7 separate regions of the Homo sapiens genome follow, and regions 1, 3, 4, 5, 6 and 7 are each linked to region 2. The links come from fine-mapping of genetic effects on gene expression. A gene starts in region 2. Each other region holds a variant in brackets. All regions are shown on one strand. Distances are between the middles of the regions.

Region 1 (4,066 bases), 280 kb before region 2:
GCTAACCTTATATACATAAGCATTAAAACCAAATCCAAGGACATCCTGTTTTGGAACATTAAAGTGCTGTTGTCACAGAAAGGAAGGCAGTCCTTCCTCTCTAAATTTATAATGTCAATCATTCCTTTGAGAGTTTTCGCTGGCCCTATATATTTTGCACCTGTTCCCAATAATCCAGATGGTACTGTGGGGGCCAAAGTCCTTGGCTCCCTGAAGTTTCACTAAAAAATCAATTCACAGCTTGGCGCGGTGGCTCATCTCTGTAATCCCAGCACTTTGGGAGGCCGAGGCGGGTGGATCACTCGAAGTCAGGAGTTTGAGACCAGCCTGACCAAAACGGTGAAACCCCATCTCTACTAAAATTACAAAAATTAGTTGGGCGTGGTGGTGCACGCCTGTAATCCCAGCTACTCCAGAGGCTGAGGCAGGAGAATCACTTGAACCCAGGAGGCAGAGGTTGCAGTGAGCCACGATCATGCCACTGCACTCCAGCCTGGGCAACAAGAGCAAAACTCCGTCTCAAAAAAAAGGAGAAAAGAAAACTCCTGTTCTTCTCTAGCCCAGGCCCAGTCTGCAGGAGAGGTTTCAGAGCAGGGTTCGTGTGGACTGGCTGTTGAGCTGCGTCTTCCCAGGGGTTCAGGGGAGTCCACGACAGCTGTAGACTGTTCTTCCGGCTCACAGTTTCACAAACTCAGTTTCGTCAGTTCACCAGAGTCATCAGGTAATTCGCTACCCAAGGGCACAAAATCCCGATTCATGAGGCCTATTTATTAATTCGTGTGGGGTAAGAGAACTGCTGTGCAGGCCAAGTCTTCCTGCTGAGGTCTGGTGTCTTCTCAGGAGGGAAAATTGTTTCAAGATCAGGATTAGTGGATTGTTTGGCAGTTGTGCAGTGGCTGCAAAGTAGCTGAATGGTCTTAGGGACCGTTGCTGAAGCTGGGACAGCCCCAGGGATCGCCCTGGTCCACTGAAAAGCTTAGAATGCAAAAAATAGAATGCATTACAGCTACCTAAAAATAGCTGCCAAGCAGAAACCGCTTTCATGCCAGCTGGCCACACAGGGTGCCCTTTCTGTGGGGAGTGTTGTAGAAACAGCTAATAAAAACTTCTTCCTCTAAAGTCTACTCAAGGGTTGGTCTAAGACCAGCAGCAGCCTGGGTATCAGTTAGGAGCTTGTTAGAAACACCGTCTTGGACCCCCACCAGACCTTCTGAATCAGAATCTGCATTTTAACACGTCCCCTCCATGGGACTTATCTGCACATTAAAGTTTCTTTAAAAAAATATTTTCAAGGGCTGGGTATGGTGGCTCACACCTGTAATCCCAGCACTTTGGGAGGTTGAGGTAGGTGGATCACTTGAGGTAAGGAGTTAGAGATCAGCCTGGCCAACATGGTGAAACCCCTTCTCTACAAAAAATACAAAAATTAGCCGGGCGTGGTGGTGGGTGCCTGTAGTCCCAGCTACTCAGGAGGCTGAGGCAGGAGAATCACTGGAACCCGGGAGGTGGAGGTTGCAGT[G/A]AGCTGAGATTGCGCCACTGCACTCCAGCCTGGGCAACAAGAGTGAAACTTCGTCTCTTTCTCTCTCAAAAATAAATAAATAAATAATAAATGAAAATAAATAATATATGTATATGAATATATATATTTTTAAGAAACAAGGTCTCACTCTGTAGTCAAGGCTTAGCTGCAGTGGCACAATCATAGCTCAGAGTAGCCTTGGACTCCTGGGCTCAAGCAATCCTCCTGCCTTGGCCTCCAAAGTGCTGGGATTATAGATGTGACACTGCATGGAGCTCACATGAATGTTTAAGAAGCACTAGGCTAGGCTGGGTGTGGTGGCTCATGCCTGTAATCCTAGCACTTTGGGAGGCTGAGGTGATCATGAGGTCAGAAGTTCGAGACCAGCCTGTCCAACATGGTGAAACCCCGTCTCTACTAAAAATGCAAAAATTAGCCGGGTGTGGAGGCATGTGCCTGTAATCCCAGCTACTCGGGAGGCTGGGGCAGGAGAATTGCGTGAACCCAGGAGGCGGAGGTTGCACTGAGCAGAGATCACGCCACTGCACTCCAGCCTGGGAGACAGGGCAAGACTCCGTCTCAAAAAAAAAAAAAAAAAAAGAAGCGCTAGGCTAGAGTCTAGCCTCTATCTGGATCTCAAAACCAATCTAACCTTTATTCATCTTACTACCTGCAGGAAAACCTGCCTGTACCTTAATAAAGCCAAGGCTAGAGCCAGGCATGCTGGCTCTCACCTGTAATCCCAGCACTTTGGGAGGCCGAGGAGGCTGGAAGATCCTTTGAGCTTAGGAGTTCAAGAATAGCCTGGGCAATATAGTGAGACTTTGTCTCTACAAAAAAAAATTAAAAATTAGCCCAGCGTGGTGGCTCACGCTTGTAATCCCAGCACTTTGGGAGGCCAAGGCTGGAGGATCCCTTGATCTCAGGGGTTCAAAAATAGCCGGGGCAACACAGTGAGACTCCATCTCTACAAAAAAAAATTAAAATTTGACAGGTGTGATGGCACATGCCTGTAGTTCCAGCTACTTGGGAGGCTGAGGCAGGAGGATCGCTTGAGGTTACAGTGAGCTATGGTCATGTCACTGCATTCTGGCCTGTACAGCAGAGCTGTCTCAAAAAATACATAAATAAAATAAAGTCAAGGCTGGATTTCAGACCTTGACACAGAAGTGGTCTGCCTGGAATAGGGGGTTGGAGGGGACCTGGCTAGCAGGATTGGCTCACGGGCCCAGAACTGTCTCTCCCTTTGGAATTCTCTGCTCTCATTGCCTACTTGGGCTCGACCTTATCAGAGAAGCCTGCCCCCCTTCGTAGCATGTTGCTCAGGCTGGCCTCTGACTCCTGGGCTCAAATGATCCTCCTGCCTCAGCACCTCCAAGTAGCTGAGAGTATAAACATGTGCCAGGGTGCCCAGCTATGTTACTTCTGGGAAGCATTCTGGAAGATAGTTGTACCAGGCACACTGTACCTTATAACCTTGTCTTTATATATGGGGATCTTTTGCTTTGTGCTCCTGGCATCAAATTCAGCTATAAAGTTGACTCAAACCTTCCAAGGATGGGTATTGTTGTAAGGTCCTGGTCAGAGCCTGGCAGTACGTCAGCCTACCCTGAGTGCAGAGCTTCAACTACCCGCCTGCTACAACAGTGTTTTCATATTTCCATACCTGAGATATAGTAAAAAGTGGTTTTAATACAGAAACCTGGCCAGGCATGGTGGCTCACACCTGTAATCCCAGTACTTTGGGAGGCTAAGGAGGGAGGATTGCTTGAGCCCAGGAGTTTGAGACCAGCCTGGACAACATGGTGAGATCCCCATTGCTATATCTCTTAACATTTATTTAAAAAAAAAAAAAAAAAACAGAAATCACAGAGATCTGAAGTTAGGGTCTTGCTATTTAAAAGCTGTGCCACTTTCAGCCAATCCTTTTATATTCTTCACACTTCTACTTATTCATCTATAAAATAGGTATGATACCTGTTTCACAGAATTGTTGGGGGCCAAAGTAAGATGATACAAATATAAGTTCCCAGCTCAGTACCTGGACACCATAGGTGCTCAGCGAACGTTACCGCACTCTGACACCTGGGCACCCCAGCCCTGGGATACGGGTCTTCCTACCACTTAGGGGATTGTGTGAGATGAACCAAGGGAAGCCACTCCAGCTCTCACAAATGTAACCACTGTACAGCTGCCTCCTTGACCACATTTCCATGTATAAGAAATACAAGTTTTGGCAGGAACATTTTCCAAACCAAAGGAAAATTTGTCTACTGTGTATATTAAAGCTGAAGAAACCAAAAAGTTTCTGCCTATTTGGTATTTTTCCTGAATACTAGATTTGCTGACTTGGGATTTAGATGTAGACGTCTGTTTGCAAATGTTTTCTTCACACATTTGTTCATTTTTCCTATTTACATCATCAGTCATCCCCACTTCACAATGTTCTTTTCAAAGGCCTCTTTCTTAGTCATTTTTTTTAGGCAATGTTTGGCCATCTGGCGCACAGTTTATCAGAAGTATTATTGCTTAAGGTCCCAGCCATAG
Region 2 (4,066 bases):
TGCAAAATGATCACGAAGGCCAAGCTGGGCCTTGGTGTCTGCGAATTCCCTGCAGTAGGTCCCTCCTGCTGCCCCGTCCAGGCGCCCACAGGATGCTCCACATGACTCTTTACCTTTATGATTTTCTTACCTCCAGGAAAGAACAGGGTCAGCTCGTCCACCCAGAGCTGGAGGGACTGTTGGGGGACCACGCCACTTCCCCACGGTATCCGCATTATTATGGCGTGGCCCAGGCTTTGGCCTGGGGCCATGAACAGACTTTCAGCTTCTAGAAGCAAGTGGTCACAGGGCCTCCGTGACCCTCGGAGACAGCGCCACAGCGTCGGTTGCCTACTCCTTGCTGGACAAGGCTGGCTCTGCTTGGGAATGCAGAAACCCTGAGTCCTTGTCCTGGGCCCCACAGTGTCTGAGCATCGAAGGTCCCTGCTCTGGGACGAGTCACCCCACAGACACCCCACATTCGGGAATCAAGTCTTGAGGAATCAGAAGCAGAGATTCACACTGTGGCAAAGAGGGGAGCGGAGGTATCCCCGTTTTCCTTTGCAGAGAGCTACACCAACTGCCCTCTTCGTCTTTACAACCCTACTTGGGGTCCCTTTCCCTCCTCGCTTGTGCCTGTGAGTTCCAAGAGGTGGAACTGGGGTGAGCAGAGCCCCCAGGTCTCCAGGAGCAGCTCCACCTCCTCACAGGTTACAGTCGCTTCCTCCTACCGAGGTTCTGCCTTCAACCCACTGCCCATGCCAGCTCCCTCAGGCCAGTCTCCCAGACTGTCCCTGGCTCCCTGCACCCTGGCTCCAGCTCCCTGCCCTGGAAAGAAGAAGTCCACCATCTGGTGAGGGTCTGCCACGCATCTGGGGTCTGCCATGCGTCTGCACTGAGGTTCTGCCACGAGTCTGCACTGAGGTTCTGCCATGCGTCTGGAGTCTGCCACGCGTCTGGGGTCTGCCACGCGTCTGGAGTCTGCCATGGGTCTGGGGTCTGCCATGTGTCTGGGATCTGCCGTGCGTCTGGGGTCTGCCACGCATCTGCACTGAGGTTCTGCCACGCGTCTGGGGTCTGCCACGCGTCTGGGGTCTGCCACGCGTCTGGGGTCTGCCACGCGCCTGCACTGAGCAGATATTCCAAGCACACCACCCCTTTCCAAAAGACGGCATACAGTGCATTTCTGTTCCTGCCCCTCACCCACATGGTTCCCCGCTTCCCAATTCCTTGGGGTCTGCTTAAGTCTCACTCTCTTTCCCCCATTCATACAGCCCCAAGGTCGCTCCCTCTGGGGCCCTTTCTTCCCCATTCTTCCCAGCAGCCCAAAGCTCTGGTGGGACAGGGGCAGCCCCTGGGGAGGGAGGAGAGGACCCAGGAACCCGGCTAGGAGGGTGGCCCACCCATTTCCAGTGTGACCTGTTCCCATTCCCCCATGTCTCCTCCCATCCCTCCCGCCACTCAGCTCAGGCTGATGAGAAGCAGAGCAACGGGTGTATCGGTGTTTTCTTTCCTGGTGGGGTAGTGGGGTGGGGCTGAGGAGAGAAAAGGGTGATTAGCGTGGGGCCCCGCCCTCTTTTGTCCTCTTCCCAGGTTCCCTGGCCCCTTCGGAGAAACGCACTTGGTTCGGGCCAGCCGCCTGAGGGGACGGGCTCACGTCTGCTCCTCACACTGCAGCTGCTGGGCCGTGGAGCTTCCCCAGGGAGCCAGGGGGACTTTTGCCGCAGCCATGAAGGGGGCACGCTGGAGGAGGGTCCCCTGGGTGTCCCTGAGCTGCCTGTGTCTCTGCCTCCTTCCGCATGTGGTCCCAGGTAAGTGATGGAGACAGCAGATGAGGCTGGCTGCGGGGAGCACTTGGGGGAGGTGGGAGCTGTCAGAGAAAGAGGTCCGGGGAGACAGAGAGAGAGAGAGAGAGAATAGGGGAAAGGGAGACAGCGAAGAGGAAGAGAAGGGAGAGAAAAAGAGGGAGAGGGAAAGGAGAAAGAGATGAATGGGACAACATGGGGGGAAGGTGGAGAGAGACCCAGAGAGGGAAAGAAGAGGAAGAGAAGAGGGAGAGAGAAAGAAGAGTGGAGGCCGTGCGCGGTGGCTCATGCCTGTAATCCCAGCACTTTCGGAGGCCAAGGCAGGAGATCACCTGAGGTCAGGAGTTCGAGACCAGCCTGGCCGACATGGTGAAACCCCGTCTCTACTAAATATACAAAAATTAGCCGGTCGTGGTGGGCCCCACCTGTAATTCCAGCTACTCAGGAGTCTGAGGCAGGAGAATCACTTGAACCTGGGAGGTGGAGGTTGCAGTGAGCCAAGATCGCGCCACTGCACTCCAGCCTGGGAGAGAGAGCGAGACTCTGTCTCAAAATAAATAAATAAATAAATAAATAAATAAATAAATAAATAAATATAAAATAAAATAAAAAATAAGAAGAGGAGAAAAGTGGGGAAGAGGAGGCATGAACTGGCAGATACGGGACAAGATCTGAGGGGAAAGACAGAGGGAGAATGCTCGAAAGAGAGAGAAAAGAGAACAGAGGGCCAGAGAGCAGCCCGGCGATGTCTGGAAGGATCCATGGTGAGAGCCCAGGCTTACTCGCAGAGAGAAAGACAGGCAGAGCCAGAGCAAGAGGAACAGAGTCAAGGAGAAAGATGTACACCCTTGTGTACAGAGCTGGGGGTAGAGGGGATGCCAGGAAAGCTGGGTGATGGAGACGGAAGAAAACTCATGTAAAGCTGCAGGGTGAGAGGACGAGACAGGTGAGACGCAGACAAACTGAGGACCCTGGGAATGGAGAGAGGAGAAGATCGGGAGACAGCAGCAAGCAAGGGAAGCGACAAGGAGGAGAGGGGCAGGCCGGCCGGGAGGGTGGTGCGGAGGAGGCGGCCAGGGCGCAGAGGGCCGGGAGGTGCTGGCCGTGGGCTTCTTACCTCTGAGCTCGGGTTTAAAAGCCTCCATTTGGGTCACGGCCTTGCCTGGGGCTCGTAGCCCCGGCATTGGCCTTGGGCTCCTCCGTGTACAGAGCTGGGAGGGGAGGGATGCCAGGCCTGTGGGAGATGTTCCCTCGGGGGCCCCCGTCCTCTTCCCCACACTTTCCAGGCTGTCCCTCTGGCTTCAGGACCAAGTTTTATTCTGTGTTTCTGGGTGTCTGAGTCTTTGGGGGAGAGTCTGGGGTCCAGAGTTCAAGCTGGGGTTAGAGTCTCAGCTCCTGCCCTGCCTCTCAGCAGGCTAAGAACAGTCGCCGAGGGAAAATATTTCTTGGGCGCATATTTGAGGAGCTTCCTGGGAGTGAGTCAGAAGGCGAGTGCCGTTTAAAGGCTGCAAGAGAAGCCATGCTGGTGAAGCGGACCCTTCCACCTCGGGATGTTTCAGGACTAGGCTGAGGGCAAAGGAAACTGCCACCACCTCCCTACACCTCCCCACCCTCCAGCACCCCCACCCCACCCTGGCCACACAACCCCGCTCCAGTGCTCATCCCACCGTGAGGACGTGGAGGCCGGAAGGAGCCGCCACACGGCCCTGCCCTGCAGATGTGGTTGAAGGAGTCTCCACGGGAATCATGACTCCCAGAGCGAGGCTGGGGCTTGGGGCGCCGGGGAGGCAGCTTGGATTTAGGAGCCCCAGGGCCAAGTCTTTGCCGTGAACTGTTCTGGCCCCTGTGACCAGGCCCTGCCCCGTGTCTCCCCAGGGCCCCGGTCCCCTGTGTAAAAAGCAGTGGTGAACGGTTGGACCTCCTGACGCCCAAGTTCTTGAGTTTCCAAATCTGTGATTTAAAGCTGAGCCCAAATGTGCTGGGTACCAGCTGGACACTCAGCTCCATGTGGAGCCAGGAAGTGGGGTCTGTGGAGAGGAGCGCAGAGGGGCAAGACCTGGGGTGGGCGTGGAAAAGCACGGGGGCGTGACCCGGAGAAGGAGTGAAGGACTGTTGGTGTGCAAGGGCGTCTCCATGACGACCCGAAGAAGCTAGGCATGTCGTGGAGCGCTGAGTCCTTTGCGTCGCTAAGGGGACCAAGTGGAGCTGGGCCAGGAGAGGAGATGGTCGTGGCTGGGAGATGGCACCCACACATCTGACCGGGCATGACCAGGGCCTTGGCA
Region 3 (4,066 bases), 620 kb after region 2:
CGAGCTTAAACCCATAGCCATCGGATGTTACTGTATGAGGCTGCACCTCCTGGTTCTGCATCTCTGTCATGTTGTCACAAAATTTTTGTGTAAGTGCTTAATGTTTACACAAAGTTGGCTGTGGAGGGAAATGGAGCAGTGGTGTGGAAATTGGAAGAAATGTTGCCATTCAACCTTGAGAGTCTCTGATTCTGAGATACCACCCAGTGGACAGATATGGGAGCTAGCAGTTATGATGCAGGACAAGCAAGCCCCAAAATTGAGGCTTAGCCCAAGAGGGTTCTTGGCTCCTCATAGGAGACAATTCGAGAGTGCACCAGTGTGTTAAGCAGCGACTTTGATTGAAATGGCCAGTACACAGCAGCAGCAGAGGTACTGCTCCTTGAGGAGTACCTAGAGCACTCAGCATGCCTAGAGTATCAGCTCAGCAGCAATTCTGCACTCATATTTATACCATTTTAATTATATGCAAATTAAGGGTCAGTTTATGCAGAAATTTCTAGGATGAGGGTGGTAACTTCTGGTTGTCAGGTTGTTGCCATGGCAATGCTAAACTGACATGGCACATTAGTGGGTGTGTCTTATGGAAAGCTGTTCCCACTCCAGACCTGTTTTAGCCAGTCCTCAATTTGGTCCCGTGTTTGAGCCCTACCTCTGGGCAGCACAGAGGATTGTTTCAGCCTCACTCCCTGGATTTTCTTCTCCAAGGAGTAAAGAGCAAATCCTATATTTGTGGTTAGCTGGTTAGAGACTGTTTCTATTAACTATTCTTTTGGGAGCTAAACTAATTTAATTCCATCCCCTAGACTTTTTTCCTGTTCAGGAGTGGTGTCTCTGGGATGAGTCCTTCTCCAGAGTCAGATGTTTACTCTCACATCTAAATATAGAGCCAAGCAAGCTCGTTGAGACGTTAGTTGAACTCATGTCTTTGGATGGATTTCATATCACAGTGGCTTTCTTTTGTAGAGACTTTGTGAGAGAGGAGGGATTTACTTTTTTAAAAAAAAGGTTGGGGGTAAAAGGTTGAAAATAAACAAGGACACCTCTTTGAAGTGTTTAGGAAGAAAGGGAGGTTTTAAATATTTCCTGGAAATCATCTAATTTACAAATGCACAACTTTGTTAATCATGTCCAGGCATGTCCTCAGCCCCGGGTCTTTCCATAATATTAAGAGCATGTTCGGTGGAATGCAGCCTGAATCATTCACTTCTAGCTGCAAATGAAAAAAGTTTCAATCAACTGGGACTCTACCTCAATGTGCATGCAAAGCAATTAAAATCAAAGAAGCTTAAAGGAATAATGTCCAGGGGTGGAATCCCATTTCTTTCCCCTTCTGTATGTTTCAGCTCTTCAGTCGCTCCAGTAAACACTAGGACAAGTTATTAGGAAGAGATTGCCTGTCTGATTGATTGACTGTATTCTTAGGGCTCCTCATAGCACTATACAGATAAATTGGAATTTTCAGAAAAAAAATTGAATGAATATTAATAATAACAGTGGAGGCTGGTATCAAGAGAAGGGACACAGAAGAGACAGTTGGGAGGAGTGAGAAGCAAAGCTTCAGCTGGCCGGGCATGGTGGCTCACGCCTTTAATCCCAGCACTTTGGGAGGCCAAGGCGGGTGGATCACGAGGTCAGGAGTTCGAGACAAATATGGTGAAACCCCGTCTCTATCTTTTTTTTTTTTTTTTGAGATGGAGTCTTGCTCTGCGGCCCAGGCTGGAGTGCAGTGGTGGGATCTCTGCTCACTGCAAGCTCCGTCTCCCGGGTTCAAGTCATTCTCCTGCCTCAGCCTCCCGAGTAGCTGGGACTACAGGCGCCCGCCACCACGCCTGGCTAATTCCCGTCTCTATTAAAAATATAAAAATTAGCTGGGCACGGTGGTGGGCACCTGTAATCCCAGCTATTCAGGAGGCTGAGGCAGGAGAATCACTTGAACCCAGGAGGTGGAGGTTGCGGTGAGCCGAGATCGCGCCACTGCACTCTAGCCTGGGTGACAGAGCAAGAGTCTGTTTCAAAAAAAAAAAAAAAACTTCAGCCAGTGTTGTGGGTTAGAGGGCCCAGGTCCGTGGAGAGGTTATCACCAGCACTTCACTCACTCAGCAAAGATTTATTCAGTTTCACCTGTGAGCCAGATCTTGCCTAGGTGCTA[A/G]GGACATGGGGGTTAGAAAAACAGATGGGGTCGGTCTCTGTCCTCATGGAATGTACAGTGAAGATAGACATTAAGCAGATAATGGGAACAGCTGCAATAAGGGCAACGAAGGGGAAGTCCAGGTGCTGCCCGAGTGGGGGATTCAGGGTGTGTGGGGGGGGATTGTTACTAAAGACTTCCTCCAGACAGTGACATTTAAGGTGAGACAAGTGGGTGGGACTTAGCCAGGCCAAGACACGGAGGAAGAAGAGTGAGGCCGAGAGCATATTGAGTGGAAAAGCTTTGTGGGTGGAAGGAGCTTGATGTGCCCCAGAAGCTGAAGCCTTAGCTGCCTGGAGCACACCCCGGTCAGGCTATTCAGGGCCTTGAAAGCTGTGCGAGGGATTGGGGACTTTATCCTGGGGACAGTGGGATTTGCAACCACTGGTGGCATTTTAACCAATGGAGTAATATGGTTTGCATTTTCATCCAGTGACTTAAGTACTTTTGCATGCGTTCTTCTGTGGGATGGACCTGAAAGAATGGTCTGGACTTGAGGATCCCTGGAGAGCACAGTGAAGCTCAACGAAGAGTTCCAGTTGTTGGGTTGTGGTGAGGGAACCAGCAATGGAAGGTTTTGAAGAGGGGAATGACATGTCTGGGAGCAGCTCTGTGGTGGCTTTCAAAAGTTCTGGGGAAACTTGATCATGTAGCAGAAGGCAGCTGAGGAGGCGGTCCAGGCACTTAGGAGCACAGTGGCCTGGACTTCTTAGGTGAGAGGGGAGGTTGAGAGCTCGTGGTAGGTGTTGCAGGGACCCTAGAGCCAGAAAGCTGTGGACTGGTCTTCAGAGCTTGAGGGCCAAGGGAGCAGGAAGCCTTCACAGGAAAAGAAAGGTCTGAGTGAAAGTGACTGAAGAGAGGTGGGAAAGGGAAGGGAGAGGCCTCTGGTCTTGTTGTGCAAGGAGAGGGAGTGTCCAGGTATGTAGATGGGGTGTGAGCCTCTTTTAGAGAAGTAAGGGTTGGGCTCACTTGCAAGCACTCAGGAAGGACCGGAAGGAAGAAAGTGAAGATGCCGTCCCCATTGTGTCCCTCAGCGCCCAGAGGGTGTGTCGACCTGCTCCTCAGGCCAGGCCAGCCCAACACCTGTGACTAACATGACCTCAGAGTCTAAAATAATGTGTGCCACAGCTCTGAAGTCAGAAGGCTGATTTTTATAAATCAGCACAAATTGACCTTATTACCCATGGTCCTTCAGTGACCTCAGAAATCAAAGTGAAAAAAAAAAAAAAAAAAACCCAGCCCTAAACCTCTCTGGACCAAAGTTTTGCTCCTGAAGCAGGACCCCAAAATACTAGTGGCCTATTTTCTGCTGAAGTCTCTCTGTCCTCATGGTTCTGGAGAATGTCCTTTCAGTATCTTTATTCCTCCCCCATTTCACTGCAGATGTGCTCCAAGTTTCATGTTCCAGCAATCAGATGACCACGATGGAATATTCCCTGAGCTGGTGTTTCCAGTCTTTAGTCTAAGTTCTAAGACACTGAGCATTCCAAAACCCCTACTGTTCTGTTTCCCAGAACAGACCTTTCTTCCCTATTCTCCAGCACCCTCTGTTCCTTCCCCTTTCCTTTCCTTTTCTTTTTCTTTTTTCCTTCCTTCCTTCCTTCCTTCCTTCCTTCCTTCCTTCCTTCCTTCCTTCCTTCCTTCCTTCCTTCTTCCTTCTTTCCTTCCTTTTTTCTTTAATGGGAGTGAGGTCATTTGTGGAGCTGTCACTGCTCTGCAAGAGGGCAGGCATGAGGGGTGCCAGGCCCTCCTGACTTCTACCTTCTGATTTGTATGGTTTGTAAAATGAGCTGTATAAATGCCCAACATTTGATCAAACGAAACTGAAAGGATGATTGATGATGCGGGGATCAAACTTACCATTTGAATGTAGAC
Region 4 (4,055 bases), 180 kb before region 2:
GTTATCCGGAGGCCTAACCGTCTCCCTGTGATGCTGTGCTTCAGTGGTCACGCTCCTAGTCCGCCTTCATGTTTCATCCTGTACACCTGGCTCTGCCTTCTAGATAGCAGTAGTAAATTAGTAAAAATACTAATAGTCCCTGATATGCGGAAATAATGGCATAAGCTGTCTTTCTCTCTGTCTCCTCTCCCTCTCTGCCTCGGCTGCCAGGCAGGGAAGGGCCCCCTGTCCAGTGGACACGTGACCCACGTGACCTTACCTATCATTGGAGGTGACTCACATTCTTTACCCTGCCCCTTCTGCCTTGTATCCAATAAATAACAGCGCAGCCAGACATTCGGGGCACTACTGTTCTCCGTGCATTGGTGGTAGTGGTCCCCCGGGCCCAGCTGCCCTTTCTCTTATCTCTTTGTCTTGTGTCTTTATTTCTACACTCTCTCATCGCCGCACACAGGGAGAGACCCACCGACCCTGTGGGGCTGGTCCCTGCAGGGTTATAGGCATGAGCCACCATGCCCGGCCTGCTTTTTTCTTTTTCAAAAGGACTCTTTCTAGATTATACCTATTCATTCCGGTGACTATATATGGGGCAAAGATGGGTTTGAATCCACCAGGATAAACGTGCCGGATCTCCTCTCTGATGGAAGAAGAGACAGGGATAGAAGGGTACAGAGAATCAGAGCCAAGAGGAGGCCGAGTCAGGCGGGGGTTGCAGGCTGCTGTGAGGACTTGGCTGCTTCTCTGAGTCTGGTGGGATTAGCAGGGGATTTAAACAGAGGAACCGTGGGATCTCCCTTATGCATTTCTGCCATGGTTGGCTCAGCTGAACACACCTCTTGAGCAAGACTTGGTCTTGGACACCCAGAGGCCCTTGGTTGAGGGTTTACCTCCTGGTGTGGCCACTGACACATCCACGTTTGGCTCCCACACGGCTGGGCAGCCCCGAGACCTGCTGTGCCTGCACTTCTCATTGGTGGCATTTCTCAAGTTTGTCCCCTCTCAAGTCTGCCCCATCCGGAATACCAAACACCTCTCTCTCCTACATGGAAACCCCCGTCAGCACCTCCTCCTGACTCACAGGGCATCCCGTCAACATCACAGTCCCAACCTTCCCACATGGAGAAGCTCATGGGACCCCCGATGGACCAGGACAGTGCCAGCACTAAGACGTGCCCTGGAACTCACAGGAAGAGCGGACCAAGAAGCCAGGAACAGCACGGGGCACTGGGAGCTGCAAACGCCCACGATACTGTGAGAGACGGAGAAAGGTATGACAGGAGGAGCAGACCAAGAAGACGGGAACAGCACGGCGCACTGGGAGCTGCAAATGCCCACGATACCGTGAGAGATGGAGAAAGGTATGGCCATGGCGGTCACAAAATGTTACACAACATTTATTAAAGGCCTAAATGGAGAACCTAACGCTATCAAACCCTTAGGTAAAAACACAGGGGAAAATTCGTATGGCCTGGGGTTAGGCGAAAAGTTCTTAGACATGACACCAAAAGCATGATTCATAAGATTGACAAATTAAATGTAGTCATAAATTTAAAATTATAATTCTATAAAGCAATATAAAAATCCAAAGAGAATGAAACACAAACTATGGTCTAGAAATAAACATTTGTGAATCACACGTCTCACAACCTACTGGCACGCAGGATATATGAAGAACCATCAAAACTTAACCATAAGAAAGTAAAAACCCCAGTATTAAAGAGAGGGCCAATATTGGAATGGAGGCCTCATGAAAGAAGGTATAAGGAGGGCATATTGCCCGAGAAAGAGGCTCAACATCATAGAGATGCTGGAGAAATGCCAGTCAGCAGTACCTCTGCAAATCCATTAAAATGGCTAAAAACAGACAAAACCCATGGGCCAACCCAGGTTCTAGTGATGATGCAGAGGAACTGGGACCCTCATAAGCTGCAGTGGGAATGGGAGGGGTCCCGCCATGCTGGAAAGTGGTCCGGGAGTTTCTTAAGAAGTTAAGCACATCCTTACCATGTCATCCAGCAACCCCACTGCTGAAATGTCCCCCAAGGGAAAACTTAAACGTGCACACACAAACCTGCACACAAGTGTTTAGGCCTCATTCCTCATTGCCAATAACTGGAAGAAAACAAAATGTCCATCGGCAGGAGCAGGAGAAGGCGTGAACCAACGCGGATGCTTCCACATAGGGGACACCAACCAGCAGTGGAAAGATGCACCCAAATGCCCCAGGTCTCCCAGGCTACATGCCCGGTGAAGGAAGCTAGTTTCGGTGGCCACAGGCCGAAGGATGCCAACACATGACATCTTGGAGAAGACAGTGTACCGTGTCGGGGAGCAGGGCAGTGGTTTCGAGGGGCTACGGGTGGAGGGGCGAATGGAGGAGCTCTCTGGGGCGATGGCGTGAGCACCTGCACCTCACTGTGGGCTGCTGCGGCTGAGGGGCTGTACGGCAAACAGTGGCTTCAGTACATGCAGACTGAAGGAGGAAGGCTCCCACAACTCAGAGACAGAGGGTGT[C/A]GCCTCCATGAAACAAAAACATATTTAAAAAAAAAACCTCTTAAAATTAAGAAAAAAACCACAAAAAGTATTTCATAAGCGCATTGACTTTGAGTTGACATAATCTACCTGGGAGCATGGAACTGAAACCACAGGCTTGGCAATCCCGGAGGGAGAGGGTGGAGGGTTTAGACCTCAATTGAAGGGCTCAGTACCTGGCTATAGGAAATAACATTTAAAAAGCAGCAGGTGGAAATAATTTCTGCTGATGAGGTTGCATCTCTCCAGATAGCCGGCAGAGTAAATTAAAGCAATATAGTCTTGCTCTGTTGCCCAGGCTGGAGTGAAGTGGCGCCATCTCCGCTCACTGTAAGCTCCGCGGGAGAATCTCTTGAACCCTGGAGGCAGACGTTGCGGTGAGCCGAGATCCCGCCATTCCACTCCAGCCTGGGCAACAAGAGCGAAACTCCGTCTCAAACCAAACAAAATTAGGTAACTAACCCAGGACTAAAACAGCATAACTTTAAAAAAATAAGTCTAGGAGGTATGATGTTCATTCCCTGCAAGCCAATAAAGGCCACGTCTGGGGCATACATCTAAAAAAAATAATCCTAAAGAGAAAGTTATGGTCACAAATATGTTCTGTACGGTGTTATTAAGAGCAAAAATAGGAAACAACCCAAATATCAATAAAATGGGACCGAACCCTTGCAAATTTACTAAAATAACTCAAAATTGTTAAACATGATGCACAAGACGAAGATTTTAATAAAGTGAAAAGGCAGGAAACATAATTACTAATGATTATTGGTTTATTTTTCATGCCACTTCATTCCACAAAAAGATTTCAGGTATCTTACAAAAAGACACACTAGAAATATTAAAATACTATCTGAACCAGAAGCAGAATCAGGGTAAGCTAGCAGAAAGGCGTATGAGCCAAAGGGATCTACCCAGCTTTCAAAGCTGACCACGGCCGTGCGCAGTGGCTCTGTCTGTAATCCCCGCACTTCGGGAGACCGAGGAGGGAGGATCGCTTGAGGCCACAAGTTCGAGACCAGCCTGGGCAACAGAGCAAGATTCCCGCCTCTACCAAAAATTTAAAAATCAGCCGGAAGCCAGAGGCTAGGGACATGGCTGAGGATCGCTCCCGCCCCTCGGAGGCCAGAAACCGAGGGTCACTCCCGCTCCCTAGAGGCCGGAGGCCCCGGGCCGCTCCCGCCCACCTCCGCGGACGAGCGCCGCCCCTTCGACCCCATTCCCTGAGGTCTGGACGTTCAGGCCCTCTCGGTCTGGGAGATCCCGGAGAACCACCCACGGGGCTTTAAAAAAAGTTGGTGCCCAACATCTCCCCGAAATAGGGCCCGCCCTATCTCGGTCGGGGAGCGCGGGACCTCCGTGGCCACCCAGCGCCACGGTCCGCGGGTCCGCTTTGCGCAGGCGCGGCGTCCCCGCCCATTAGACCCCGGCCCGGGCGTCGCGTGGTGCGCAGGCGCAATGTCCCCCACTAGCGCCCCGCCTTGACCCGGCCGTGGTGCGCAGGCGCAGTCTGCGCAGGGACT
Region 5 (4,066 bases), 24 kb before region 2:
TCCAAGGCTCTCCTCACCCCTCCCTCCCAGATCATCCCTGACCCTGCAGATCTTGGCCACTCTATAAACTGGAGCAATTCTGGTTTCCCCACACCTCACCCCAAAACTCAGCCCAGGTCCATGCCTCTGTGTCTAAATCCCTTGAGGACATCTGCTCCTTTATTAGTTCAGGGCACCCACAGTTTATGTTTTTGTGTTTAATCCCTGTAACCTGTTCCTTTTGTCCCTGTGTTGCTGGTGTGGTATTTCTGTTGCACAGAAAGGCCTCCCCGGCTGACATCAGGGTGGAGCAGGCCCTCAGTGCCTAGGCAGCATCAGTGACATGGATCGAGAAAGGATGTACCTGAAAAGCCGGTCAAAGGAGAACAAGAAGGGGGCATCCTGGGAGGCTGCTCCCAGGAAAAAGCCTGGTGGGAGGGCAGGGGCCTTGGACACGGGGACCCAGCTCCCCACCTCCCCACCTCAGAGAGGCCTGGGAAATCATTCCTGGCAGTAGCCTGGCCTTGCCCGTCGGACAGTATTAGGGAGGGTGAGGGAAAACACTTCGTGGTCAGGTCAGTTTGGAAAACTTCCTGTAAGGTGGTGTTTGTTTCAGAGCTTTGATGAGGCCGATGCACAGTGCGAATTTCCAGAAGCGGGTGAGCGCAGCCTTCTGCAAGCTTCATTATCCACGGTGTCTTTTTTTTTTTTCTTTTTTTGGAAAGCTGTTCATGCAAGAATGCTCTGTTTTGGGAAATGCAGTCTCACACCCTCCTCTCCCCTAATCCTGTTTCTAGGCTCGTCAAGCTTTCCAATTTGAGTCTTCAGCTATCCAGAAGCTGTGAAGGGGCAGCCCCGTCACCAGACACAATCCTTGCAAAGGGACAGCCTCCATCAGCCTCCATGGAAGACTGACAGACCCACACAGGGGAGAATAAATCAACCTGCAAATGAAGCATTCAGCCAGCTTGGGAGTTCTGCTTTCCATTTTAAATTAATACACCGGCCTTCTGGTTTGTACATCGGTTGTCCTCCCGTGGGTCTGGCTGGTAGGCATTGGTTTCTGAGGGGCTGGCTGTGTCTGGGGCAAGGTGGAGACCTCAATCCTGGGCTGCCGGGATGGGCCAAAGTGACCTTCGATGGAGCATCTCCCAACCCTAGAATTACAGGGATTTATGAAATGTGGACCTTTCCTGAATGTTAAATTTGCTGAGGGCCAAAGGGGTCAACCATCTCAGCAATGGGCAGGGGCCAGAGGTGCACGAGGGAGGAGAGAAGTGAGGAGAAGAAGAGCGATGGATCGGGGTACAGGCGATCAGGCACGGGCAGGCAGGACAGGGGCCTGATGCGGGAGGGCGGTGGTGGGGACGGTGTAGGGAACAGGAGGTGGGAGGAAGCAGGCTGCCATGCAAGCTCACCCCAGGAGAACCAACCGGGAGGAGGGGGTTCCCTGTCCGGGAGGGCTGAGAGATGGCCGAGGCTCTGCTGCAGCCCTGGTGGAGGCCATCCCTGGGAGAGCCTCCGTCTGAGCTCTGGCTCTTGGGGAGGAAGGGCCAGCTGCCAGTGAGGGCCCTGCTGGGCTTCTGGGTGGCGGCAGGAAAGCTCTGGGAACCCGGGACTCAGAGCCTCCTGGGCCTTATCTTCCTGTTTGGACGTTACTTTCAATGGCCACTGCTCTGGTCCTGCTGGCCCGTCCTGGGTGTGAAAGGAGAAAGAGGCTCCTTGTGGGCCTGTGGAGAAGGGTGAGACCCCTTTCTAGAGGACCTCCTCGGCCTCCACTTCTGCCAGGACATCCATGACGGCCGATTCCATTTCCCCTGCCTGGCGCACCTGAGCTCACGGCTGCCCATTCTTCTGCTAGT[A/G]GACGGAGCTGGGACAGGCCTGCCACTCCCTGCACCCCCCTAACCCCCACACGTCCTGGCCCTGTCCCTGGATGCCGTCAGGGCCTGTTCCCCACTCAGTTCTCAGAGCAACCCGGAATGAAACTGTATTTGAAACATCCCCTTACTTCCTTGTTCCTCTTGGCACCCGATCACCTCGGTCCCAGCCCCAAAACTCTCATTGTGCCAGCATCCTCTGGAATCAGAGACCCACCCATGCGGAATCAGAGACCCACCCATGCGGAATCAGAGACCCACCCAGGCAGACTCAGAGTCCGACAGTGTCAGAGCTGAACTGGGTAGTGACCAACTAGCTCAACCTCATTTCACAGACGAGGAAACTGAGTCGCAGGGTGGGGAGGAGCCAGCAAAGGCGGCACGGCAGTGAGACCATCCCCATTTGGGGACCTCCGTGACCTCCCCGAACTGAACAGCACCCATGACAGAGGGCTCCTCTATCCAAATCCAAAGGCCAAGTCCTCCAGTCTCCAAGTGGTCGACGACAGCAGGGGCCATGCTGCCCCATGACCTCTGTGTGTGCCAGGACCACCCAGCCTCCTTGGCTGCCCAGTGGCGAGTCCAGCTCAACCTCCTCCCGGGGCCCCAGCACCCCCGGCACATTTTCTGACTTTACATAGGTCATCGGGTAAATGGTGTCACCTGCATGAGCCTCAGTGTATCCATCTGGGAAAGGGGAAGAACCTCCCAGCAGGCTCTTCTCACAGTGGTATTGCAAAGCGAAAATGAGATTCGGATGCAGACACACGTGGGGAGGGAGCCTGTGAGGCCTCTGCTAAGGCGAAAACCCATAACACACACGACTGGCTCTGCTCAGGCCATCGGCTCTGGGGCCGCCTCGTCCCATGTGGGCTCTGGCTTTGCTGACACCGTTCCCTCATCTGGAGGCTCTTCCTCTGACCCTCAGTGGACCCACTTGACAGATGGTCTGATGTGCCTTCTTCCTTTAAGGAAGACATGGTGTCCTTCTGGTTTTGGAATCAGACCGAGCTGGGTTCAAATCCTGTCTGCTGAATGGTTTTGGTCGCAATGGCTTCTGCTTTCTTAGAAAAAGTCCCAGATTCAGCCGGGTGAGGTGGCTCACACCTGTAATCCCAGCACTTTGGGAGGTCGAGGCAGGTGGATCATGAGGTCAGGAGTTCAAGACCAGCCTGGCCAACATGGCGAAACCCTGTCTCTACTAAAAACACAAAAAATTAGCTGGGTGTGGTGGCATGTGCCTGTAATCCCAGCTATTCGGAAGGCTGAGACAGAGAATTGCTTGAACCCAGGAGGTGGAGGCTGCAGTGAGCTGAGATCGCACCACTGCATTCCAGCCTAGGCCACAGAGCAAGACTCCGTCTCAAAAAAAAAAAAAAAAAAAGGGAAAGTCCCAGATCCTTCAGATGGCCAATAACACCCTTGAAATGTCGTCATCCGGCCATTTGCCTCGGCACCACTTGGGGAAACAGGTCCCAGGGAAGACTCACAGACTGAGGCTCCAGGGAGGGCATGGCCGGCCCCAGAGCCTGCACTGAAATCAGCTTCCTCAGGACATTCTGATGCTCACAGAGCTCGGAAACCCAAAGAACCTGCCTCCTGCCCCGCTGTGTAAGCCCACCTCACTCATCCCGCTCCCTCTGCCCCAATCCCCCCGTGTAAGCCCAGCTCACTCATCCCACTCCTGCTGCCCCAATCCCCCCGTGTAAGCCCAGCTCACTCATCCCACTCCCTCTGCCCAATCCCCCGCTGTGTAAGCCCAGCTCAGTCATCCCACTCCCTCTGCCCCAATCCCCCCCGTGTAAGCCCACCACACTCATCCCGCTCCCTCTGCTCCAATCTCCCCCTGTGTAAGCCCACCTCACTCATCCTGCTCCCTCTGCTCCAATCCCCCTCTGTGTAAGCCCAGCTCACTCATCCCACTCCCTCTGCCCCAATCCCCCGCTGTGTAAGCCCAGCTCAGTCATCCCGCTCCCTCTGCCCTAATCCCCCGCTGTGTAAGCCCACCTCACTCATCCCGCTCCCTCTGCTCCAATCCCCCTGGACTTCTTTCAGATCCTAGGATGGGCAAAGTGTCTCTCTACCTCAGGGCCTTAGCACAGGCCATCCTCGGCCCACAGCAGTGGTGCCAGCCTCTGCCTGGCTAACCTCACCCTCCTCCACTGGCCCCTGGTCAGGCATCCCTCTGCCAGCCTCTCACTGCCAGCTAA
Region 6 (4,066 bases), 220 kb before region 2:
CTCTTCTAGTTCTTTAAGATGCATTGTTAGGTGGTTTATTTGAAGTTTTTCTACTTTCTTTCTTTCTTTTTTTTTTTTTTGAGACAGCGTCTCAATCTGTTGCCCAGGATGGAGTGCAGTGGTACAATCTTGGCTCACTGCAACCTCTGCCTCCTAGGTTCAAGAGATTCTCATGTCTCGGCCTCCCGAGTAGCTGGGATTAGAGGCGTGTGCCACCCCGCCCTGCTAATTTTTGTATTTTTATTTATGTATTTATTTAGGAGACAGAGTCTTGCTCTGTCACCCAGGCTGGAGTGCAATGGCACAATCTCAGCTCACTGCAACCTCTGCCTCCTGGGTTCAAGCGATTCTCCCACCTCAGCCCCCCGACTAGCTGGGACTACAGGCACCCGCCACCACGCCCAGCTAATTTTTGTATTTTTAGTAGAGACAGGGTTTCACCATATTGACCAGGCTGGTCGCTGGTCTTGAACTCCTGACCTTGTGATCCGCCCACCTCAGCCTCCCAAAGTGCTGGGATTACAGGCGTGAGCCACCGTGCCTGGCCTGTAATCTTTAAAGCTCAATAGAAATGTAAGATCTTGCTATTGTTATGCGATTATAAAATCTTCCATTCCTTGCTTTTTCCTTGGTTGCTGGCCTAGAAACTAAATCAATTCTGTTCTCTTTTTATTTTTTAAAAGTAATCTCGAACATGTGAAATTGCTGATATTTTAATGTATTGCTGATGTTTCATCTATTCCAATGGTAGCTTCCTCTGGTTTCTTCTAATAGTTAAAACTCTATCATGCCTATAATCCCAGCACTTTGGGAGGTCAAGGCGGGCAGATCACCTGAGGTCAGAAGTTTGAGACCAGCCTGGCCAACATGGCAAAACCCTGTCTCCACTTAAAAGATGAAAATTGGCAGGAGAATCGCTTGAACCCGGGAGACCTTGGTTGCAGTGAACCAAGATTACACCACTGTACTCCAGTCTGGGCAACAAAGCGAGACTCAGAAAAAAAAAAAAATATATATATATATATATATATATATATGTATGTATATATACACACACATATCAAAGCAATATATTTGTATAGTGAAACCTCAGACAGTGCCACTAAGTGAATGATAATATAAAACTCTTATTTCTTATTTTGCTATGATGTTAGGTTCTCAACAATCATTCCGCCTGCTGGTTTACCTTGGTCTTTTTTCCCATTGAGATGGGTTTCCCTTCAATGTCTGGTGATTCTTCATTGTTCACATTTAATAGTGACACGTGAAGAAGGAGAATGAGTCTGTGTTATCATTAGTGAAAGGCTCGTCTAGATGGTGATTCTTCACTGTTCACATTTAATAGTGACACGTGAAGAAGGAGAATGAGTCTGTGTTATCATTAGTGAAAGGCTTGTCTAGATGGTGATTCTTCATTGTTCACATTTAATAGTAACACATGAAGGAGAATGAGTCTGTGTTATCATTAGTGAAAGGCTCGTCTAGGTGGTGATTCTTCACTGTTCACATTTAATAGTAACACATGAAGGAGAATGAGTCTGTGTTATCATTAGTGAAAGGCTCGTCTAGATGGTGATTCTTCACTGTTCACATTTAATAGTGACACGTGAAGAAGGAGAATGAGTCTGTGTTATCATTAGTGAAAGGCTCGTCTAGATGGTGATTCTTCACTGTTCACATTTAATAGTGACACGTGAAGAAGGAGAATGAGTCTGTGTTATCATTAGTGAAAGGCTCGTCTAGGTGGTGATTCTTCACTGTTCACATTTAATAGTAACACATGAAGGAGAATGAGTGTGTTATCATTAGTGAAAGGCTCGTCTAGGTGGTGATTCTTCACTGTTCACATTTAATAGTAACACGTGAAGGAGAATGAGTGTGTTATCATTAGTGAAAGGCTCGTCTAGAGGTTTTGCTTCGGGGAGTCGATGGGGTTTCCGCATGTTAGTAAGTGATGCCTTTGGTCTGGATGGTTTCCTTCCTCTGGAGAAAACCTTCTCCTCTCCTCTCTGGAAGGCAGCTGCTTGCTTGTTGGTTGTTGGTGTTCTACTCACTGGTTACCCGAGGGGTGGGGTGCTGGCATCGGTGAGGGAGGATAATGAGGGTTGACTGTCAATGTACAGATTTTAATCGACCCTCCTGTTTTCTGA[T/C]GCCTGCCTCACTTCTCTGCCCCTCACCCCCAGGAAGGTCCACAGATGATGCTCCTTCTCACGGATGCGAGGCCATCAAATCACTTTTTGTCTCCGCTGCTCTCTCTCCATCGTGGATAGCCACCATGGTTTCTCAGGAGGGAAAGGACACAACTGGGTCAGTATTTCGTCTACCATCTTTAACTTGGAAGCTTCTTCTTCCAACTAAAGCTAGAATAGCAAAGCTTGAGAAAGGGTTTTGAAAATATTTAGTAACTCAAGTTTTTGGGATGATTTGAACATCTTAAGGCACTAAGTTACTGGGTTTTCTGAAAATGGTGATGGGGAATCATTAATTAATTAATTAATCTCTGCTTTGTTTTAAATATATTGCACCAGGTTTGTGTGTTAGAATTCACACTCAAAAAGTACAGGTTTAATTTTGATATATTTTCTTTGAAGAAATAGCTTAACTGCTCTTCAATGCTATACTTAGGATGTGGCCAAATCTTTATTTGAGACAAAATGTATTATTTCTCTCTATGTAAATTAAGATGTTGTACTTTGAAAAATCATTCCTTTGGGAATTTTTAGATCTTTCTCAGTTTTCTTGAACCTTTTGTGTAAGAGCAATGACCTTATATTTGTCACATTGTTCCTATTAAACACTTAGCTGTGGGCACGAAAGAAACGGGCAGTTCTGTTACAAGAATAAGGTGGAGAAGGTAGTATCACTCTTACTCTTTCATGGATGGGCAAACAGGTTCAGGAATTTCCCAGAACCAAGGTTTTCTATCTTATAATTGGGTGTTCTTTGTCTCACAACATGCGCTTCGTCCTTCCGTATGAATCTCTTTGCTCAGGCTGACTCTGAATGTCAGCTCTCACATGCTAAGCACACATTAATTTCTCTTATCCTTTATTCCCACCTAGTGTGCGGGTGGTTTTGAGAGGATCCTGTACGGTATGGTCCTCAGGTGCTTGGCAAAATGGGTCCACCCCCTCCCGGGTAACCCTGGCTCTAGGCCCTCTTCCATGTCCTGGCCTTCCCCAGCAGTCCCCTGGAGCCCTCTGGCGACCAAAACTCCACAGTGAAGCGCCGCCTGGAGTGGTGGCCGGTGAAGGGTTCCCAGTTCGGGACACGTTATTCCTCTTCTGTAAAAACTGCACCACTTTCAGCTAGACTCTCAGGCAAAGGCACAGAAAATTACCTGATTAGATTCATGATCTTTTAGAGGTTTCCTATCGCTGAGGTCATCTGAGCCAGCAGTTTTCAAAATGAGTTGACAGCTTCATATCCTAAAATGTTGCATTTAAATTCCAGTTAAAAATAGTTTAACTACTGTATTTTTCCATTCTAAGACAGATTTTTTTCATGCTTTGCTTTTTCTGGAGTTAGCATGCATCTTATAATTGATACACTTCATTTAATATGATGGGATCTCTTCTGTTCTTCTAAAAAATTATCAATACATTTGTGATGAATATTGGTTTAATAGCATCTCAGAATGTAAAACATCCAGGTTGCAATCATTACCTCTTCTACAATATTTAGGTGAAGAAGGTCATATTTCTTTCTTTTTTAAGTCAAATTATATCTAGCAGAAACTCCCATATATCAAGATGTGGAAGATTCCAATTCACGGAGGTTCCTCGTCATATTCTGTGCCAGACACTGGAGGCCGGTATGGTGGGACTTCATGCTCCGCACCTTCCTGTCTCACTACTTTTCCTGTGACTGCCAATTGCTGGCCCTTTACTCTGAAGGGGGTTAGAGGACGACTGCCTCTGGCATTGGGGAGGGGATACTCCTCACAGCACAAGAAGTGGCAAGAAAGCAGCTGACAAATGCTGGAACCTTGGCCACACCAACCACATCTGGGGAATTGCATGTGACTAGGGCCAAGCCCATTAGGAATGCTCCTTTTCTGGGAACA
Region 7 (4,066 bases), 170 kb before region 2:
CGTGAGTTGGGGGTTGTGTGCACACAGCACTGAGAAGATGGTGCCCGGGGGCTGCCCTGTCCGTTCTGTGATCTCATTAGACAGGAGGTCCGGACGTGGGCCACTGTGTGCAGTCACTGCTCTCTGTTGTTTCCATAGGCTACTGGCGCAACTACTTGAGCTGCACGTCTGCCCACACCAGCACCAGCGACGGCACGGCCATGATCACCAGGGCAGGCCTTCCTTGCCAGGACCTCGAGTTTGTTCAGTTCCACCCCACAGGTAGGGCAGGACGCCTTGCCCGGAAAGCGTTCGGCTCGTGTGTCTTGTAAGCGTGTGGTGCCTACTCATTGCTCTTCCATAGTTTTATGTAATAACATGGTTTTGAAGATCAGCTTCCTTAGCTCTCAGGTCCTAACTTCAATGTCATTTCCTTAAGGAGACTTTTCCCACACTCCCCTTCCTCTAAGGCAGTTTGGGCCACCATCTTATGCATTTCTCAAGAGCCCTAAACCCTGCCTTGGTGATACTTATGCCAGCAGTAAAGCAGGGATTGAGGCCGGGCATGGTGGCTCACGCCTGTAATCCCAGCACTTTGGGAGGCCAAGGCAGGTGGATCACCTGAGGTCAGGAGTTCAAGACCAGCCTGCGCAACATGGTGAAACCTCATCTCTACTAAACATAAAAAAATCAGCTGGGCATGGTGGCATGCACCTGTGATCCCAGCTACTTGGGAGGCTGAGGCGGGAGGAATGCTTGAACCTGGGAGGCAGAGGTTGCAGTGAGCCGAGATCGCACCACTGCGCTCCAGCCTGGGCAACAGAGTAAGACTTCGTCTGAAAAAAAAAAAAAAAAAAAAGTAAAGCAGGAATTGTTCAGTGTCCCTCTTTGCAGTGAGGTCGTCAGCAATTCGGGCAGGCAGGTCTTCTCATTAACTGGGGTGCTCCACGCCCAGCACATGGTAGGGTCTCCATCGGGGTTTACTGAGTGAGCATTCTGAGAGCTGGGTGAATGCTGTGGAACCAAGAAGCAGCACAGGCAGATTTCAGCTTTGTAGGACAACACAGAGCTTCCGTGACAATGGGATGTAAAGTTAAGACACAGCCATGAGAGAACCCCATGTGACGTTGGGCGCTGGGCTCAGCCCCCGTGACCACTGAGGGAGCTTGTCGTGGGGAAGATGAGCTTGTCTTGGGGACGTCTGACGGTTGAGGTTACGAATGTGCAATTTGGAGACATTAACTCAGAAATGACAGTTGAAGTCTTGAGTTTGGAGGAGGTTCTTCAAAATGAGTCAGAGACAGACACACACACGTCTGCCTCTTGTTTGAGGTGACTCGTCCTGGACTTTTCTGGGTTGCTTTTCTGACCTGTGGACGATGGAGACCCCTGAAGTGGTGCCAAAGAACCAGACCTGTGTCTTTTCTTTCTCTGTCAGTGTCAGCTTTCTGATCCCTGGAAGGGATGAAAATAAGAAATGGATTTGTTGTAGGTTTTTTTTTTTAATTTGTTTAGAGATGGGGTCTTGCTCTGTTGCCCAGGCTGGAGTGCAGTGGAGCAATCTCGACTCACTGCAGCCTTTGTCTCCCAGGCTCAAACGATCCTTCCACCTCAGCCTCCCAAATAGCTGGGACTACAGGCATGTGTTAGCATGCCCAGCTAATTTTTGAGGGTTTTTTTGTTTTTGGTAGAGACAGGGTGTCACCATTTTAAGCCCAGGCTGGTCTCAAACGCCAGGGCTTAGGCGATCCTCCTGCCTCGGCCCCTCAGGGTGCTGGCATTATAGCCATGAGCCACTGCACCCGGCCTGTTGTATTTTTTATTACTGTTTTTAATCAGTAAAATGTCAGTGAGCCCCTGAATTCCCTCTGTAATTTGCTTAGAGCTCCACTTCTCATGCTTTGTCTTCAATATGTGAGAAGTAACCACAGAAAAGAGAGCATGGAAACTTAGAAAATCAAAAGGCAGGTGAGATGCAAGAATCACATTCTTGTTTTGAAAGCAAGATTGCCCTTTTTGTATACTAATAAAAATTGTAGCTTTTGAAATACATTTAGTTTAGGGTTTTTGATCTCCTTTGTTAAAATTCGAGAGCTTGGCACGCCCTGTTTCTCATCGCACTGAGGAGTCACAGAGCCGCTGTTTGGGGCACAGACCGCC[G/A]GACTGCCCAGGTTTGGGTTTGAGCTCTGTCCTCAGCTGCATGACTGGATGTTACCAAGCGTTAATTTGCTTGTCACTGAGAAAGGGGGTCGTACTACCCAGAGTTGTTGTAAGACTTAAATGAGTTTAATATGTGGAAAGCAGCTAGAACTGCCCATAGCAAGTGCAGTGTAAAGATGAACTAAAATAATCATTATTACTGTCCTTGCCACTGTTTGGGTAACTTAGATATGAATTCTCCAAGCTAGTATTCTTAACTAGTCACCACAGTATCGTAGCGCAAAAGAATGTTCAAAAATTAAAACAAAATTTGAGGCATCCAACGTACACCGGGCTGTAATCAGAGTATTGGCCAGAGGTCTGTGGGCCGGCCTTTCTCCTCTCTGGGGACGCCACTCTGCCCCAGCCTCTGCTGCAGCTGTCAGCCTTGTCAGTGCTTTTTGTTATCCAGACTTTCTACTGTATCTTAACTGTTCTTTCTGTTCAGTTTTGCATATAATGCCTTCTGCATATCTTTTTTGTCTCTCCCCCAAAAAATATCTTGTAAAAAAAAGTAATGCATTTGAAATAGAGACCCAGCAATTGTTAGGTTATAAATGTGTGGTTTTTTGCAGGCACATATGGTGCTGGTTGTCTCATTACGGAAGGATGTCGTGGAGAGGGAGGCATTCTCATTAACAGTCAAGGCGAAAGGTTTATGGAGCGATACGCCCCCATCGCGAAGGACCTGGCGTCTAGAGATGTGGTGTCTCGGTGGATGACTCTGGAGATCCGCGAAGGAAGGTGCGTGTGGTTTACCACCAGCACTGTCTGAGCGGGCACACGGGCCGGGGTTGCTTCTGTGAGTTTCAGCACCACTCGCCCTCACCTTCGTGTGCAGGCACATGTGCACAGCCACCTCTCTCAGCTGCCGGCAGGCATCTGTTAGTCTGCGATATTTTCCTAAAGACCTACATTTTGAAAATTTTAGCCAGTTTCTTTCTCAAATCTGTGGAACAGAGTTTCTCTTAGTGTGTGTGAGTATGTGACGGAGTATGGAAGAGAGAGACACGCACCCAACCTGAAGTCGGCGTGTGAGCCTTGGGTGTGGTGTCTGATACCCACAGATGTTTTTCGACAGCTTTCAAAGTGTGTGGGTCATTTGCCTTTCAGAAGAACAGTTTGCAGCTCTTTCATTGCCTGACCCTGTTCTTTAATGTGATAACACTTGCTAAATATCTGCTGGTATCTGGTGTGGCCTTTAGAGGTTTTACATTTTTATATTAAAAAAAAAAGAAGTCGGATGGTTTTTTGGAATATGGTGGCCCTCCGTATCCATCGGTTCCACATGTGTGGTTTCAACCAACTATGTACTGAAAATAAAATTGCATCCTTACAAACACGCAGACTTTTTTTTTTCCTTGTCATTGTTCGCTAAGCAACACAGTGTAGCAGCTATTTACCTGCATTTACATTGTATTAGGTACTATGAGTAATCCTGGAGTTGCTGTACAACTTAAATGTAAAACTTGAAATGAGGATGATTTAAAATATGGAGGAGGATGTGCATAGGTTATATGCAAATACTCTGCCATTTTATATTAGGGACTTGAGCATCCACGGATTTTGGTGTCCGTGGGGGTCCTGGACCCAACCTGCCACGGATACGCAGGGACGACTATTTGGCATAGAGGCCTAATGCTTTTACCAAGGACAGCCGCTGCAGGCTGTGATCCCTGAGACGAGTGTGAGTTCAGTAAGGGCAGAGTATTTGTTCTGGTTCTCAGCTGTGTCCCAGCACCTAGGATTGTCCCTGGCACACAGTAGATGCTTAGAAAAGATTTGATGGGAGGGTGGCCGTACATGAGGGGAAATTTTCCTCAGTATCAAAACATGTTGCAACTCACACGCTTCCAAGATGACGTATTCTCAGGTCTGCTGCCGTTGC

What was found.
Region 1: its variant is fine-mapped to the expression of MUC4 in putamen (GTEx, PIP 0.97).
Region 3: its variant is fine-mapped to the expression of MUC4 in prefrontal cortex (GTEx, PIP 0.96).
Region 4: its variant is fine-mapped to the expression of MUC4 in tibial nerve (GTEx, PIP above 0.99). The same link has a PIP of 0.9 or more in cerebral cortex, hypothalamus, kidney cortex, nucleus accumbens and pituitary.
Region 5: its variant is fine-mapped to the expression of MUC4 in esophagus mucosa (GTEx, PIP above 0.99).
Region 6: its variant is fine-mapped to the expression of MUC4 in thyroid (GTEx, PIP above 0.99).
Region 7: its variant is fine-mapped to the expression of MUC4 in cerebellar hemisphere (GTEx, PIP above 0.99). The same link has a PIP of 0.9 or more in anterior cingulate cortex, liver and sun-exposed skin.

What each region holds. Positions count from the first base shown.
Region 1 is chr3:196,093,472-196,097,537 of GRCh38, reverse strand. No RefSeq gene overlaps it. Among named protein-coding and RNA genes, the nearest start is that of TFRC, 13 kb to the right of the region's middle. RefSeq lists an enhancer at 579-628. The variant G/A (reference allele first, on the strand shown) is at 1,520.
Region 2 is chr3:195,809,460-195,813,525 of GRCh38, reverse strand. MUC4 (mucin 4, cell surface associated) reads left to right here and starts at 1,597. Exons shown (of 25, transcript NM_018406.7): 1 at 1,597-1,790. The coding sequence starts at 1,709. RefSeq lists enhancers at 3,337-3,900, 3,901-4,066.
Region 3 is chr3:195,184,863-195,188,928 of GRCh38, reverse strand. All of the region lies in intron 2 of XXYLT1 (xyloside xylosyltransferase 1), which reads left to right. Among named protein-coding and RNA genes, the nearest start is that of XXYLT1-AS2, 39 kb to the right of the region's middle. RefSeq lists enhancers at 754-1,269, 3,492-4,066. The variant A/G (reference allele first, on the strand shown) is at 2,153.
Region 4 is chr3:195,990,288-195,994,342 of GRCh38, reverse strand. No RefSeq gene overlaps it. Among named protein-coding and RNA genes, the nearest start is that of TNK2, 84 kb to the right of the region's middle. RefSeq lists a silencer at 3,852-4,055. The variant C/A (reference allele first, on the strand shown) is at 2,515.
Region 5 is chr3:195,833,326-195,837,391 of GRCh38, reverse strand. LINC01983 (long intergenic non-protein coding RNA 1983) reads left to right here. Exons shown (of 2, transcript NR_134939.1): 2 at 777-937. Among named protein-coding and RNA genes, the nearest start is that of MUC4, 23 kb to the right of the region's middle. RefSeq lists a silencer at 3,188-3,388. The variant A/G (reference allele first, on the strand shown) is at 1,842.
Region 6 is chr3:196,025,378-196,029,443 of GRCh38, reverse strand. LOC124909478 (a long non-coding RNA gene) reads left to right here. Exons shown (of 5, transcript XR_007096234.1): 2 at 2,184-2,307. Among named protein-coding and RNA genes, the nearest start is that of TFRC, 55 kb to the left of the region's middle. The variant T/C (reference allele first, on the strand shown) is at 2,151.
Region 7 is chr3:195,975,939-195,980,004 of GRCh38, reverse strand. It overlaps the pseudogene SDHAP1. Among named protein-coding and RNA genes, the nearest start is that of TNK2, 69 kb to the right of the region's middle. The variant G/A (reference allele first, on the strand shown) is at 2,140.